Regions from separate parts of the Homo sapiens genome. Here region 1 is linked to region 2. Evidence: fine-mapped expression QTL. A gene starts in region 2. The other region holds a variant in brackets. All regions are shown on one strand. Distances are from middle to middle. Region 1 has its middle 29 kb from the start of CRISP2. Region 2 holds the start of CRISP3 (cysteine rich secretory protein 3).

Region 1 (8,354 bases), 61 kb before region 2:
AGGTGATCCACCAGCTGTGGCCTTCCAAAGTGCTGGGATTACAGGTGTGAGCCACTGCACCCAGCCGACTTTTATTTTAAATTAAGGGTATATGTGCAGGTTTGTTACATAGGTAAAGTTGTATCATAGCAGTTTGTTGTACAGATTATTTCATCACCCAGGTATTAGGCCTAGTATCCATCAGTTATTTTTCCTGATCCTCTCCCTCCTGCATCCTCCACCCTCTGATAAGTTCCAGTGTGTGTTGTTCCCCTGTATGTGTCCATGAGTTCTCATCATTTAGCTCCCACTTATAAGTGAGAATATGTGGTGTTTGGTTTTCTGTTTCTGTGTTAGTTTCCTAATGATAATGGCCTCCAGCTCTATCCATGTTCCTGCATAGGACATGATCTCATTCTTTTTTATGGCTGCATAATATTCTATGGTGTATATGTACCACATTTTCTTTTTTCCAGTCTATCATTGATGGGCATTTAGGTTGATTCCATGTCTTTGCTATTGTGAATAGTGCTGCAATTAACATATATGTGCACGTGTCTTTATGATAGAACAACTCATATTCCTTTGGGTATATACCCAGTAATGGGATTGCTGAGTTGAATGGTATTTATGACTTTAGGTCTTTGAGGAATTGCCACACTGTCATCTACAATGGCTGAACTAATTTACACTCTCACCAACAGTGTATAAGCATTCCTTTTCTCCACAACCTTGCCAACATCTGTTATTTTTTGACTTTTTAATAACAGCTATTCTGACTGGTGTGAGACGGTCTCTCATTGTGGTTTTGATTTGCATTTCTCTAATGATCCGTGATGTTGAACTTTTTTGGTATGATTGTTGGTTGCATGAATGTCTTCTTTTGAAAAGTGTCTGTTCATATCCTTTTCCCACTTTTTAATGAGGTTTTATTTTTTCTTGTAAATTTAAGTTTCCTGTAGATGCTAGATATTAGACCTTTGTCAGATGCATAGTTTGCAAAAATTGTCACCCATTATGTAGGTTGTCTGTTTAATTGTTGATAATTTCTTATGCTGTACAGAAACTCTTTAGTTTAATCAGATCCCATTTGTTAATTTATGTTTTTGTTGCAATTGCTTTTGGCATCTTCATTATGAAATCTTTGCCCATGCCTATGCCCTAAATGGTATTTCCTAAGTTGTCTTCCAGAGTTTTTATAGTTTTGGGTTTTACATTTAAGTGTTTAATCCATCTTGAGTTAATTTTTATATATGGTCTAATGAAGGGGTCCAGTTTTAATCTTCTACATGTGGTTAGTCAGTTACCCCAGCACCATTTATTGAATAGGGAGTCCTTTCCCCATTGCTTGTTTTTGTCAGATTTCTCAGAGATCAGATAGTTGTAGGTGTGCTGTCTTAATTCTGGGTTCTCTATTCTGTTCCACTGGTCTGTTTATCTGTTTTTGTACTTACCAGTATCATGCTGTTTTGGTTACTAAGCCCTGTAGTAATTTTTCAACTAGATTAAGCATTTTTTCAACTAGATTAAGATATCCATAATAATATTAGTATATAGACCCACATTTGAACAAAGTACTTAATGAATTCTGCTGAAACTTTAGATTAAATGTGGGCAATAACATATAGATTTATAAAACAGAATCAATTTTGATTTATATTTATAAACTATCAAAAAGAAACAAATTTAGTGTAGCAAATTTAAAAATTATATTTTACTGTTTTACATATAATATCATGGTTTAAAAATGATGAAATCACTTTAAATTGGAGGAATTTCTCATAGATTAATGCCAAAGTTTTCTTTTATTTTTTTCCCAGGCTGGCCTCAAACTACTGAGTTCAAGCAATCCTCCTATCTCAGCCTCCTAAGTAGCTTGGATTCCAAGTGCACACCACCATGCCCAGCTTCAAGATTTTTTTTTGCCCTTTCCATTTGTCATATGTTAATCAATATGTTGCTTTCCTCCTTGTCATTATTCCTTGTTAACTGACAGTGATCTCATGATCACCTTGAAATGTTTTTTAATATCCCCCAAGCATTTAAATAATTATTTACTATGTCCTCACAGGTTAGATCATTCTTTTTCTCCTTCAGATAATTGTGCCAGGCTGTAGAGTTTAAAGATCCATCTCCGTGAAATAAAGTAATAAAAAATAAAAGTTAAATAATCATCTGTCTCTCTGGCATCTATACTATACTATTTCATCCTTTCCTCATCTTCTTGTTTTTGACACTTTTGGTGGACCTTTGCTCTTATTTTCACAAACTTTTTTAAATTCTGGGATTTAGCATATTGTTTCACTTACTTCCCAGGAATCTCAGGTGGTATTGTGGCTTTAGGTGCCGTCTATACAAAGATGATTTTCAAATCTTTATCTCCATTTTAGACTAAATCCCTCCTTATATATTCAACTGTCTTCTCTATGCCTACACTTTCAACATGTCCAAACTGAACACCTGATTTAGTTCTAGCAACCATATAACATACTCTAGTTATCTATTTATTTTCTTTCTCTCTTTCCCTTTCTTCCTTCCTTCTTCCCCATCCCTCCCTCCCTCCCTCCTCCTCCTCCTATTCCTCCTGTTCCTCCTCTTCCTCCTTCTCCTTCCTTCCCACCTCCCTCCTTCCCTCCATCTTTCTCTTTCTTTCTTTTTCTTTCTTTCTTTTTCTTTCTTTCTTTCTTTCTTTCTTTCTTTCTTTCTTTCTTTCTTTCTTTCTTTCTTCTTTCTTTCTTTTCTTTCTTTCTTCTCTCTCTTTCTGTCTCTTTCTCTTTCTTTTTCTTTTTTCTCTTTCTTTTTCTCTTTCTTTTTCTTTCTTTTTTCTTCCTTCTTTTTCCTTCCTTCCTCCCTCCCTTCCCTCATTCCTGCCCTCTCTCCTTCTCTTCCTCCTTTCCCTCCTTCCCTCCATCCCTTCCTCCCTTCCTCCCTTCTTTTCTTCCTGTTTCAAGTTGAGGTTACCAGGCACAGTGGCTCACACCTGTAATCTCAGCACTTTGTGAGGCCGAAAAGGGGGGATCACCTGAGGTCAAGAGTTCAGAACCAGCCTGGCCAACATGGCGAAACCCCATCTCTATTAAAAAACAAAAATTAGCTGGGCATGGTGGCATGTGCCTGTAATCCCAGCTAATCTGGAGGCTAAGGCAGGAGAATTGCTTGAACCCGGAAGGCAGAGGTTGTAGAGAGCTGAGATCACGCCATTGCACTCCAGCCTGGGCGACATGAGTGAAACTCCATCTCAAAATAAATAAATAAATAAATAAATAAATAAATAAATAAATAGAGACATGCAGTGTATACAATACAGCACACAAAATCTTAATTGCATAGCTCATTTAATTTCTAAACATGTGTATACCTATGTAAATAGCACTCTAAAGGGCTCCTTCATGTTCACCCAACCAGGACCCTTCAAGGTTTAATCCATTTCTTGTCACCATTTTTATAATTATGGGTTTTTAATATAATAGAAACAGCCGGGCGCAGTGGCTCATGCCTGTAATCCCAGCACTTTGGGAGGCTGAGGCAGGCAGATCACGAGGTCAGCAGTTCAAGACCAAGATGGTGAAACCTCGCCTCTACTAAAAATACAAAAATTAGCCGGGCACGGTGGCAGGCGCCTGTAATCCCAACTACTTGGGAGGCTGAGGCAGGAGAATCACTTGAACTGGCGGGATGGAGGTTGCAGTGAGCCGAGATCATGCCACTGCACTCCAGCCTGGGCAGCAGAGTGAGACTCCATTTCAAAAAAAAAAAAAAAAAAAAAAAAAAAAAAAATATATATATATATATATATATATATATAGAAGTTGATAGGACTAAGTCACTATGTAATTTATAAAGACATATTCTAAGCCTGACTACCATTGAACTAAAGGTTTTAAATGTCACATTGTCAAAAGTGAACACATTTTCATGAATACAGAACAAGTAATCTACCTAAGAGCTTTATATAAAGGAAATATTTATTTTCAAATTAAATGTCCAGTTTGAATATATTTTTCATTCAAGCTATGAGCTAATTTTAGTTTTCATCAGGAAGCAGAATTGTGGTAGTGCTTAAAAGTATAAGACTTTGAGTCCTACTATATCTGTACTGAGTACATGCTTTGATGTTCCTTGGCTGATTGTATCTGGGCAAAGTACTTAATCTTCCTATCCTTGTTTCCTCATCCGTAAAATAAAGAGAAAGGAATATTGGGAGGATAAAGTGCAAAAATGAATATAATCGTCCCTCAGTAGCAATGGGGGATTTATTCTAAGACCCTTTGAAGATACGAAAATCCACTGAAGCTCAAGTCCTTTATATAAAATGGTGTAGCATTTGTTATGACCTACACACACCCTCCCACATACTTTAAAACATCTCTAGATTGCTTATAATACCAGATACAATTTAAATCCTATACAAACAATTGTTATATTGTATTTTTTAGGGAATAATGACAAGAAAAAGTCTGTGCATGTTCAATACATATGCAACCATCTGTATAGTACTTTTTTCCTACTATTTTTGATGATCAGTGGTTAGTTGAATCCATGGACGTAGAACTCACAGATATGGAGGACCGACTATATAAGGAATTCAGCATGGCCCCTGGGATACAGTATGTTTTCTAATTAACTTCTGCAGTGCTAAGGGGAAGCAGAGAAGAAAATTAAAATGTATTGAGTATCATTAGTACCTCTTACTCTTGAATATCTTACATACTTAACTTAAAAAAGAAATCTACTTAATTTGAAATAAATCAATATCCAATGGCATTAAAATTTTAACATGTAAATTAGGGGTATCTTATACAATCATATTTCTCAATACCATGGGGTTTAAGATCATTCTCATTGTTTTTATATGTGGATGTGTTTGGATTTGTGTGCCACATACATACACACACTTATATAGTTTTCCCCTCTACCTACTATTGAAAGGGACAGAAAGTCTAAACTTTCAGTCAATTAGTACTGGGTATCCTTTGGCTCA[T/C]AGAGACTTTTTGCATGCATACTAACAGAACTTTCATCTCCTCTGTAGCATATCCCCTTTTGTTACTCTCTACTCCAGCCTCTTTCACAGCTCTGGGATGCTAAGGACTCTGATGCCTGGGAACTCTGTGAGCACACTGCCAATAGTTCCAGGTCTCACAAATGAGTTTCTGTTTTGGGCTCCCCGGATGCCTCCCATGGCTGCCATTGCCTCATCAGCCCCCACTGCCTTTGCCACTGGCCACCAATGCTGCAGTGATAAAGATGGACACTTCATATGAGCAGCATGAAATGGTGTTTTCTGAAATTTCCTCTAACTTAAAGTCACACTGTGTTCCTTTAGAAAGTCGTAAGACAGCATTTCCGCCCTTTGGTGTTACACTGTATCATTTTATGAATCATTTTTATGATCCTAAGGAAAGGTTGTCTCTGCAGTGACTGGAGATGTCTATGTCCTTATTTCCTACTTCTAAAATTATCAACTGATGAAGGCAGGGACTCACTTTGTTCACTGGTATTTCCCTGACAGCTCTGTTTATCTTTGTATGTTAAAAACCATAAATTCATACCGATACCACCAATTTCAATAGAACACCACAGGGTTTATTCCTACATTCTCCTTTCTCATATGTTTAAATCCCTTCTCTAATAGTGAGAAACCTGGTTCTCATTATTCATAATGTATTTATTCATTTGTTCAGTCGTAACATATATAGTCAGTTTCAGAACTACTAACTCATGTGTCTATGGTAAAAATAAACACAACTTTATTGACTGGAGTCAAACATTTGTTTGCAGTTTTTATCTTTACCTAGAAGGAATATGGCATTATAATACTCATTAGGTCGGCTGTTTTTTCCCCCACTTTTTATTGTGATTATTTATTTGAAATATAGTTTGTTTTTTGTTTCTATCCTGTTTTTGGGCTTTCCCCCACTTCTTAATTATATTAATTATACTTTATTTTAATGAGTATGTAAGACATTAATATAATTCACAAGCTGAAACTATACAAAGAGGAATACCCAGAGAAATATCACTCCTCCCAACCATTTTTTCTTACACCATTGTCATCCTCCAACCAGCCCACCCCATTCTCAGCCACCCATGGTATACTAGTGTCAATACTTTCTAGTATACTCTATGTTGCATCAACATTTTGCAAAAATGTGAAGCCATATATTTTTTGTATTTATCATTTTTTAATACAAAAAGTAGAATACTATAAAAATGTTTTGCTCTTCGCTGTCTTTCAATTAGCAATATATACTGAAGATACGTCCATATCAGCTCATAAATATCCTTATTATTCATTTTAAAAGCTGCATAATAATCAATTGTGTGGATGCATTGTAGTTTATTTAACCTGCCTTTTGTGTATGTATAGATTATTTCCAATACAAATAACATTTTAATAAATAATCTTGCACATATGTATTTTCATATTCTTGGAACAACAATATGAAATTGCTAGAAGCGAATTAATGATCATTTCTAAAGGACTGGTAGAGTAAAGGATAAATGCACATGCAACTTTGTTAGATATTGCCAAATTTCCCTCTCTGGTTTCAAAATGAAAATACCAATAAAAAACCCACAATGAGATACCATCTCACACAAGTTAGAAAGGCGATCATTAAAAAGTCAGGAAACAACAGGTGCTGGAGTGGATGTGGAGAAATAGGAACACTTTTACACTGTTGGTGGGACTGTAAACTAGTTCGACCATTGTAGAAGTTGGTGTGGCGATTCCTCAGGGATCTAGAACTAGAAATACCATTTGACCCAGCCATCCCATTACTGGGTATATACCCAAAGGATTATAAATCATGCTACTATAAAGACACATGCACACATATGCTTATTGCGGCATTATTCACAATAGCAAAGTCTTGGAACCAATCCAAATGTCCAACAATGATAGACTGGATTAAGAAAATGTGGCACATATACACCATGGAATACTATGCAGCCATAAAAAATGATGAGTTCATGTCCTTTGTAGGGACATGGATGAAGCTGGAAACCATCATTCTCAGCAAACTATCTCAAGGACAAAAAACCAAACACCGTATGTTCTCACTCATAGGTGGGAATTGAACAATGAGAACACATGGATACAGGAGGGGAACATCACACACCAGGGATGGTTGTGGGATGGGGGGAGAGGGGAGGGAGAGTGTTAGGAGATATACCTAATGCTAAATGATGAGGTAATGGGTGCAGCACACCAACATGTCACATGTATACATATGTAACAAACCTGCACATTGTGCACATGTGCCTAAAAAAGCCTTTAATTTTTAAATACAATTATCAGTACTGTCTATAAGCCTAAAACTTTAATTTTAATCTTATACTTAACAAATATACAATGTATAAAATATTAAGTGAAATGTTTTATTAATGTATTAGCATATTCAATAAATAAATATGAACTAGCATATGTAGTATAAACGTTGATAAAGCATGAATCATTCTCAAGCTACTAAAAATTTCTTTTTCTTACATCACTTTCTGCCAGGAGTAATATTATCTAACTCTTCCTGTCCTTTGACATCACTGGAAGCATCACATTGAGCTTCTAAATTTTCTATGCAGAAACTTTTCATTCCTAGAATCTTGAAATTCAGTGTTCTCGCACAAAACTCTTGTCATGCGAACAAGGGCAAATGACCACACAGTACCCATGCCAAAACTGCTGGAGTTGGGATTACTGGGGAAAATTCATAGAGGAGGGGTCAGAGGGTTAATCTGTTGTTCATCACCATTTGGGTCAGTGTGAAGAGATACAGTAGGTTCAGACATGAGACTGTTAGAGATTTCCATCCTTGAGCCCTGGAGCCTTTAAGTTTCACGATCACACAACGTGGGTTTCTCCTCTCATGTACTCAGGGGCGAGGATCAGAAGTGAAATGAACCTTGCTTCAGTTCCACTGTGGTACCTCTGCTTTCTGGATTGGGGCAGGCTTGGGGGACAGTTACCCCTCCCCTGATGCAGCAGAGGCCTGGGATCTAAGCCGGATGGTTAAAGTCACATGGCGTAACAAATAAACAACAGTATTAGGCACACCTGTGTTCACAACTGGGGAAATACCAGCCCTTCCTTTGATATGCCGAGGGACTGATGTTCAAGTTTTGAGAAACTGTCTCAATCACTGGGCCATAGCTTGTTGCCATGGAGCTTTGAAGGAAGTCAGTCCCATCTCTGGGAGGTCAACCTGCAATGGATGAGTCCTAAGACAAGCAAAGTCTTACTGTTCACTCTTAGTTTTACATCTTTAAAACAAATTAACAAAACTATGGTTCTGAAAAATTAAGTGACATGCATATTTACAGTTGGAGAAAAGCTTGAACAGGATTCAGTTTTCCTTGTATTTAGAAAAGCGTGTTTG
Region 2 (8,354 bases):
AAAAAACGAAAGTACCATCCTGTGTGAAGAACCAATGATAATAAGGTCATGTGTGATAGCACTCTCCAGTGCTCTTATACTCACGCCTTCTTACTCCCTAGTGTTGTATGGTTCAAATTAGCTTGACTACTTCCTCCCAATGCTGTTTTTTCCTGAAATGTAATCTGAGGAGTGGATATAATTCCGGGATTGACTCATAAAAGACGTAAGAATAATAGTAAATAATACATAAGCCCACTTCATAAATGAATTGCAAGAATCCTAACAAAATATTAACTCATCAATTTCAAAAATATATTAAAAATATCATGACCAAGTAAAATTATATGAGGACTGCAAGAATAATTCAAAATTAGAAAATTCATTGGTAAAATTCATCACATTAACAGACTAAAGCAAAGTAATATGACAAAAAATACGTCATTAAATTCAACCCCTGTATGTAGTTTTTTTTTTTTTTTTTTTTTTTAAAGAAAAAATAGAAGAGATCATTACTTTGGTAGGAAGCATATACTGCAAATCTATACCCAATATAATGGTTATTGGAGAAATTCTAGGTGCATTTCATTTAATATTGGGAACAAGAAAAGAATGACTAACACTTTTATTTAACACAGTACTGGAGAGATCCTAATCAAAGCCATAAGAAAAGAAAGTATATACATATATATATATATAATATATACAAGTAATGTAATGTATACATTTTATGTTATATATAATAATATAAAATATATTATTATATATAAAATATTTGTAACTTTTGTAAGAGAAGACGTAAAATTGTTATTGTTTTCAAATGATAAGATCATCTATCTGGAGAACACACCAAAATTAACAATTTTGCTAGATGCACTATCAACTTACAAAAATACCATTTCTATTACTGGAAACACTCAACTAGAATATAAGATTTAAGAAACACTTATAACAGTTAAAAAAACTATACAGTATCTGGGAAACAACAAAACAAATTTAAAAATCCTTTTTGGAAAAAATCTTAAAACTTTAATAAAGAACATAGCAGAAGTTCTGAATAAATTGAGAGTTTTGTAATGCTTTTAAATGGTACATGTTAGCATAAAGATATCAATCCTAAACTAACCTGATAATTGTTTACTTTAATTCCAATACAAATTTTAAGTGGCTTATGAATAACTGAGTAAACTTTTAAAAGAAGAATTGCTTGGGCGCAGTGGCTCATGCCTGTAATCCTAGCACTTTGGGAGGCCAAGGAGGGTGGGTTGCCTGAGCTCAGGAGTTTGAGACCACCCTGCGTAACATGGTGAAACCTCGTCTCTACTAAAACTACAAAAGTTAGCCGGGCATGGTGGTGCATGTCTGTAATCCCAGCTACTGGGGAGGCTGAGGCAGGAGAATTGCTTGAAACTAGGAGGTGGAGGTTGCAGCGAGCCGAGAGTGTGCCACTGCACTCCAGCCTGGGCGACAGAGCAAGACTCCATCTCAAAAAAAAAAAAAAAAAAAAGGAAGAAGAAAAGAAAAAGAAAAAAAAGAAAGAATTAATTGGGTTATCTTTTCATATTAGTTATTAAGATAGACTTCAAACATTTGTTGACAAAAATTTAATATTATTGTAGGAACAGATAAATCAACTGGTGGAGGAAAATACAAAACTTAAGAGACAGACCAAACATCGTAACATTAAAAAGCAAAGGAGGAAGAACAGACTATAGAAATATTTTAAAGGATTACGTGGATTAGAAAAGATGTCAAAAGCATTAACACATGTGAGTATAATGTGTGCACTATAGGTATAGACACATTTATAAACTAGTCACAGCACAGAAAAGTATTTGATGCAATATTTTCTTACTTAAAATTTAATAGTTAATCTTTATTCTGATCACTTTCTTTCATCTTATTATGTATCTGTGATACAGAAAGCAGCCTATGCCAATATGCAAAGTTTGCAAAACTGCTAGACTTCATCAAGTAAGAAATTCGTAAAGATATCCAAATAAGAATAGCTGTCTTGCATTTCTTGAGAAGCACTTTTTTTTCAAGGATGAATTCCCTCCCTTTTACTTGAATTCAATAAATAACGTAACTGAAATTCATAGCAATTATCAGATTTACATTACTTGAGAATTCTGACACTCTTCCTCCCAATTCATCCCTGCCTGTTACAAATCAGAAGCCCCAATTTACCTCATAACTTATCAATGTAGGGTAACTCCCAGGCTTGAAACTTGTCATCAATTTAATTTCTTTTGATCCACTTTCAGAGGTCTTAGTCATACAGGCAGACATTCTAGATTTGGTTTTAACTAGCAGAAGAGGCAACACCGGATCTTCTATGGCTATTGCAAATACTCCCAGAGTTTCCTGGATAGCATTTAGCCACAGGGAAGAAAAGCATTTTACTTTAAAATCTTCTGTCTAGTGGTAAATAACCCCTTTCATGTTGTCATTAGGTAGTTCTGTGGTCTCCTACTATCTGACTCTTCAGAATCACTTCTAATATGCTACGGAAGATAAAGCCGTATGTGGAAATTGCTTCCTTAGATGAAATATGCACGATAGATATTATATTTAAATTACCTACATAAACATGACTGAGTAGACTGACTTTTGACTGAAAAACTTCTAAAAGCCTTTTTTTTTTGTTTTTGATCTGAGTGCATTTCATGAGGTAAATTGCATTTTATGTTGATGGTCTTTAATAAAATACTTTTTAATCTTGAGATCAGTGCTATAATTTTGTTTTGACCAATTTAAAACTTTTGCTATGGCATCCCATATAGCTGTATGTTTTAATATTAGTAAAAGTTACTGATGTGAAAGTATGCACACACATATATTCATAGTTTTTCATTTTTCTATTAAAAATAGTTCTAGTACAATTGTTTCCACAAGTCATAGACATGGGAATTAGTTATATTACTTTAGAATGAAAGGTAAAAATTTATTTAAATTTCAAACTGGATAAAAGTGCTTTTGGAATAATAAAGCTGTCTATGTATTAGCTTCTCAGCTTAAAATGAATATATTAAGATAATTACTCTCATTAAAAGTTATCAATAAACTTTGGAAAATTGTAGATAAAATATACGAATATATCACTTTATCATTGATAAGGTATAAATGTGTTGTTCACCTTGAAATAAATAATGTTCACCTTGAAATAAAGGAGTTATCACTTACCAGTGGTTTCCAGAGCAGGATGAAGTATTTGTTTCATCTATTGACAGAAGGAAGGTGCAGAGAGAGAAGGTTAGAGCCGTATATATGAAACACCTATTTCCTGTTTTGGCAAATTCTGGTTGTGCAAGTAACTCTAGATCAACAAGGCCTGAAACAGGATTTGTCATACCAGTAGTCTCAAATTTCATTGCTGGTTTTCTAGTCATGATTTTGAAATTATTTGGTGATTCCTCAAATGGCTTTTAAAAATAAATTGCTATATCAAGTTTTGTAATTGTGCATTTATTCTTTGAAGTTCATATATTACAATTTATCCATGTTTTTGCCAGTCAATAGTTTGAAAATTCTTAGCCCAATTATTAGCATCACAACATTAGAGTTTTCAGAATTATTTCTGTTGGATTGAAATTAAGCTCATAATTTTTATGAACTCTAGAGAACACAATGTTTTTTACAGCTATCTAAAATGTTTATTAATAATCTATTGGACATTACTGTTTTGGATAATAATTTTATCTTTAATGTTTGTAAATACAAGGCCACAGTGACTTTCAGAACTCAATGGCCAAACACACCATAACTCATTGGTATTTCTATATTCAAAGATGTGCTGTATTTACTTGTATTTTCTGGTTGTATAAAATTAAAGATAATATTGATCTCCAAGCTAAATTATCATTATTTGGTTCTGTTCATCTATGGAAGATGTCAATCATTCCAGGCTTGTTTCCATAGCACAATAATGAAGTGGGGTGGACTAACAATTTCAGATTTCCTCTGATTCTAAAATACAATAATCTTAAATATTGAGTTTATATAAATAAAGAAGTATAAATTAATAAATCACAAGTAGCATATACATAGCACGCAGACATTTCTGCATGCTCATATTGGCATATAGATTGCACCTTGTGGTGCATAATTCAATAGTTTCTGTTCATTTTCATTTTTATATTTAGCTTTATTGATCAATGTGACAAAATGTATAATCACAGATCAATGTCTACACAATAGGCACATTTTAAAATTATAGTTAATTTTGAGTTCAAGAATTGGATACTTCTAAATGTCTGTTATAAGAGAGTTGAGAACTCAGAAACTCAGGTCAGATTTTACCATTAAAAAATGGTTAACCATTTGCTGCCATGTCTCCAAGTAACTCCTAGAATCTGTTTACTTTATGAACATGTGAAGTGGAAGCTCTCAATAAACCAAATCAGCTATGTGGAAAAAATCACCATGGAACAACCTTCTACACAATCCTCTTTCTGTGGCAAAATGTATTTTGTGGGGAAGGACCAGACCCAGAAGCATCCACAGCCCATTCTCTTCTCTACTTAGTGGTGTAGAATGTTGTTAAAAGCTTGATATTTCTGTTTTAATGGAAATGGGCTAAATTTCTATACCAATGTGTATTGGGAAATTTTTATATTTTATTATTTTATTTTATATCATATTTTATTTTATTTGAAGCAGGATCTCACTCTATCATCCAAACTGGAGTGCAGTGGTTAGATCAGAACTCATTGTAGCCTTGAATTTCTGGGCTCAAGGGATCTCCTATTTCAGCTTCCCAAGGAGCTGAGACCATGGTGTGCACTACTATACACAGCTAATTTTTTAAATTTTTTTGTAGAGACAGAGTCTTGCTATGTTGCCCAGCTAGTGTCGAATTTCTGGCTTCAAGCAATCCTCCTGTCTTGGCCTCCCAAAGTTCTGGACTTACAGGCATGAGCCACAGCACCTACTTTATTAGGAAATTATTATTCTGATTGTAAATTTTCATATTTATCATAAATGGGAATAATATTAATTGTATTTAATTGTGATACATAATATATGTAAGCTGCCTGCCATGTAGTAAGTATTTCCAGTGTTAATTCTCTCCCACTTTATGCACTTTTCTTCTGTATCTAGACAAACCTACCCCTAATATTTGTAAGCTGTGGGATTGCACTTGAGTTTTAGGACATGGTTTGACTTACTAAGCTATAGGCAGTTCTGTGAGAAATTACCATAAGTAGACACAAAACAGTATAAAAAGGAAAAATATTTTTGCCTCATTATTCAAACTTGATAGTTTTTCTCTAACTTTTTACTGAGTTATGACTAAATGACCACTAGATGCACCATGATGTAGAAGGCATTTTGCTTGTCAAATATTGGTACATTTATTATTAAGCTAAATAAGTATATGTGGTCTTTTTGGGTCACAAAATACCATACACACGTTGGACTGACAGACTGACTTCAATCTGACCTTAAGTGTCCAAAATGGCTGTTTCTAGTCACCTTTGTTCTCTCATTTCCCATGATTAGGTTGTCTTTTCTGTATTTACGTGTCCCAAGGTCATTGCTGGCCCTTCATGATCCATGTCTCCCAATTTTAGCAGTGAGTGTCTTCCAGCTCTTATTTGGATATCTAAGTTCCATCTTAAAAGAGCAAATAGTTTGTTCCTGTATATACATTTTAATCTATTCCCACTATTCTATTGAAACTTATCAATGAGTCTCTTAGCGACTGTTGCTATTAATCATTACATTTTGTTTTAGGAATGCTCCTTTTCTTACTCTTTAAAATTATTCTTCTATTCCTATGCTTTGACTAGTACAGTGTAACCAGATTGTCTATAATATGAATAAATAAAGCACAGCTTCCATCTCTTCCTAGTCAGCCCTTCTCTCATCTTAGATACAACAACATCTGAATGCTGCCTTCCTGGGATTTCTACACTGACCACCCAAAACTGACTAGTTATTACAAGGGCAACTGGGATCCCTGCCTTACAGCTGAACTCTTGACCCAGCTTTTTATGACTTTTACTTCCCCATTATTACCAACTACCTATAGTTTACTGATTACAGTCTTTGGAAATTGCCAGGTCTGAGAAATCCTTTCTGAGCTTCAGTTTTCTCTTCTCTGAAATGTGAATTTTCATATCATACGTTGGTTTTAATGACTGAAAAGCATAATTTGTGTATAAAAATGTACTGAATACATAATTAAACTATTAGTGCGATGCTTGGCATGTGACACTCAATAAATGGAATTATTAACATTTGTATTATTATCCCTTCCAAAGCCTGGTATTTCCTGAGTACATAAAAGTCTTCCACGAATGCATTTTGTTTGATTGAACTGCCAATTCAGGAGTCTTTATAAGAAGTCTTTCTTGTTTTAGGTATTTAGGAAACAATCATAGTTTAACCAGAAATTCAAGTGTTTAAGGTGCAGTTCTATCAAAGCCTGTCAGGGTGACTTTAACAAAATGATTGAGCATCTCTCATTTTCTGTATCCTCACCAATAAATTAAGGAGCACAGACTCAGGTGCATTTTAGAATTAGAATTAATTTTACTCTGCTCTCATTAATAAATAGTAGATTTATAAATCAGTTGTTGTTTTGTTGAATTATCCTTTAATATAATGGTTTAATTTAGTGACTTATTAATTTCCAAGAAAGGTATAGTCTGTGTGTCAATTTATTTGCATTTTTCTCTTGCTTCCTCAGTCCCTTTGGTTAATATCCTGATTACTTTTTGTCACTCAATGCCTAATTATATGAGTGAAATATCAGAATTATAAATTATTTATGTGTTTCACCATTCAGTGTATTATTTATTACACACACACAAACACACATGCACACACCCATATAAGATCACACGATCTTAGGTCAGGTTTGCAAGAAATACACTGAGACACAAATTACATTGGCTCTGATTTATTGAGGAAGTACATTGCAGCAGAAAGGAAAAGAGTGAAGCAGGTCAGGGGAGGACAAAGAGCTAAAGAAGAATGTGTTCTCAGGTAAAATCTAGTCTTCCCTGATTAATAGAGGCAGTGCTGCAGACAGCCTTTTTAAACCTATGAACAGTCAGTCATTAGTAACAGTGGGGAGATGACAAGGTGGTTCTCCTCTGCCAAAGGCAATTCTCTTGAGAGGGGGCAGATGTGGGCACAGTAGCTAATTCTCACAACATCTGGGGGACAGAAGCATTGCCTCTGGGATGGGATCTCTGTGCAATACCTAAACAGCATCCACCATAATATGGGATAATATTTGCATTATTACAATAGTTGCATATTATAAAGATGATGTAAAAAACAGTGAAGGTGCTTATCATGATCACATGATTCATTTATCTCATTTTAAAAGTGAAGGAGCAGACAAAATAACTTAAAAAGTCCTTCCATATTTAAAATTATGTATGTCTCTGTTTAAGGAAAAGGGAAAACAAGGCTCTGTCTTGCTTCTTTCACTAATTGGATGTATTTGTTTGCTAAGTCCTTGACTCTTGCTAGTCTTGGTTTTAATCCAATTCTGTTTTCTTGCCTGTAAAATAGAGACAAAAATAATACCTAGTGTTGTGAGGATCAAAATGTTGGTGTGTAGAAAACATTTTTTGACTGTACTAACCTGAGTGCTAAGAGAACTGAAAAATTCTGTCCCTGAGTTACTGAAGCAGTAAGACTAGCATGTGAAAAAAAAAAACTGTAGAAAAACATATGAATCCACGTGATTGGTGATAATATCTGTATTGCCCATTGTAATGGCTGTAAGAATTCAAGTAGAGGAATACACTTTATGGGTAAATAAAAGATGTTTATATACCAAAAATTGGAGATGAGTTGGTATTAATGGATGAACAAACTTTGGGCCCGAATGAAGTTAACAAATCCAACTTTGATTTTTTTCAATGTACATATTTATTTTTAAAATTGACATACAAAATCGTATGTATTTATAATGAACAACATGTCTTGTAGTAGAGTAAGTCCTCATACATCACAAATAGGTCCTGGAAAATGATGCATAAAAACAGCATTTTTTTCTCATTGACATTATAATGATATGATGTTGAAAAAAACGATGTTATTAAAAGATGTGCTGTATGTTGTTTCACTTGAAGTCGCAGTTTCCAAAAATGTATTGACTGTGTTAAATGAGGACTTACTGTATAAATACATTGTGGAATGGTTAAATCTAGATAACTAACAAATGCGTTACTTTTCTTAGTTTTTATTTTTGTGGTGAGAACACTTAACATCCACTCTTCTAGCATCTTTTCAAGAATATAATATTTGCCATTAACTGTAATTGCTACGCTGTAAAATAGATCTCTTGAACTTACTCCCCTCCAAACTGTACATGTGTGTTCTTTAACCAACATCTCAACATGCCTTCT

What was found.
Region 1: its variant is fine-mapped to the expression of CRISP3 in whole blood (TOPMed, PIP above 0.99).

Annotation. Positions count from the first base shown.
Region 1 is chr6:49,679,940-49,688,293 of GRCh38, forward strand. It overlaps a transcript of CRISP2 not described here. Among named protein-coding and RNA genes, the nearest start is that of CRISP2, 29 kb to the right of the region's middle. The variant T/C (reference allele first, on the strand shown) is at 4,961.
Region 2 is chr6:49,741,166-49,749,519 of GRCh38, forward strand. It overlaps CRISP3 (cysteine rich secretory protein 3), which reads right to left and starts at 3,223. Exons shown (of 8, transcript NM_006061.4): 1 at 3,166-3,223. The coding sequence starts at 3,202.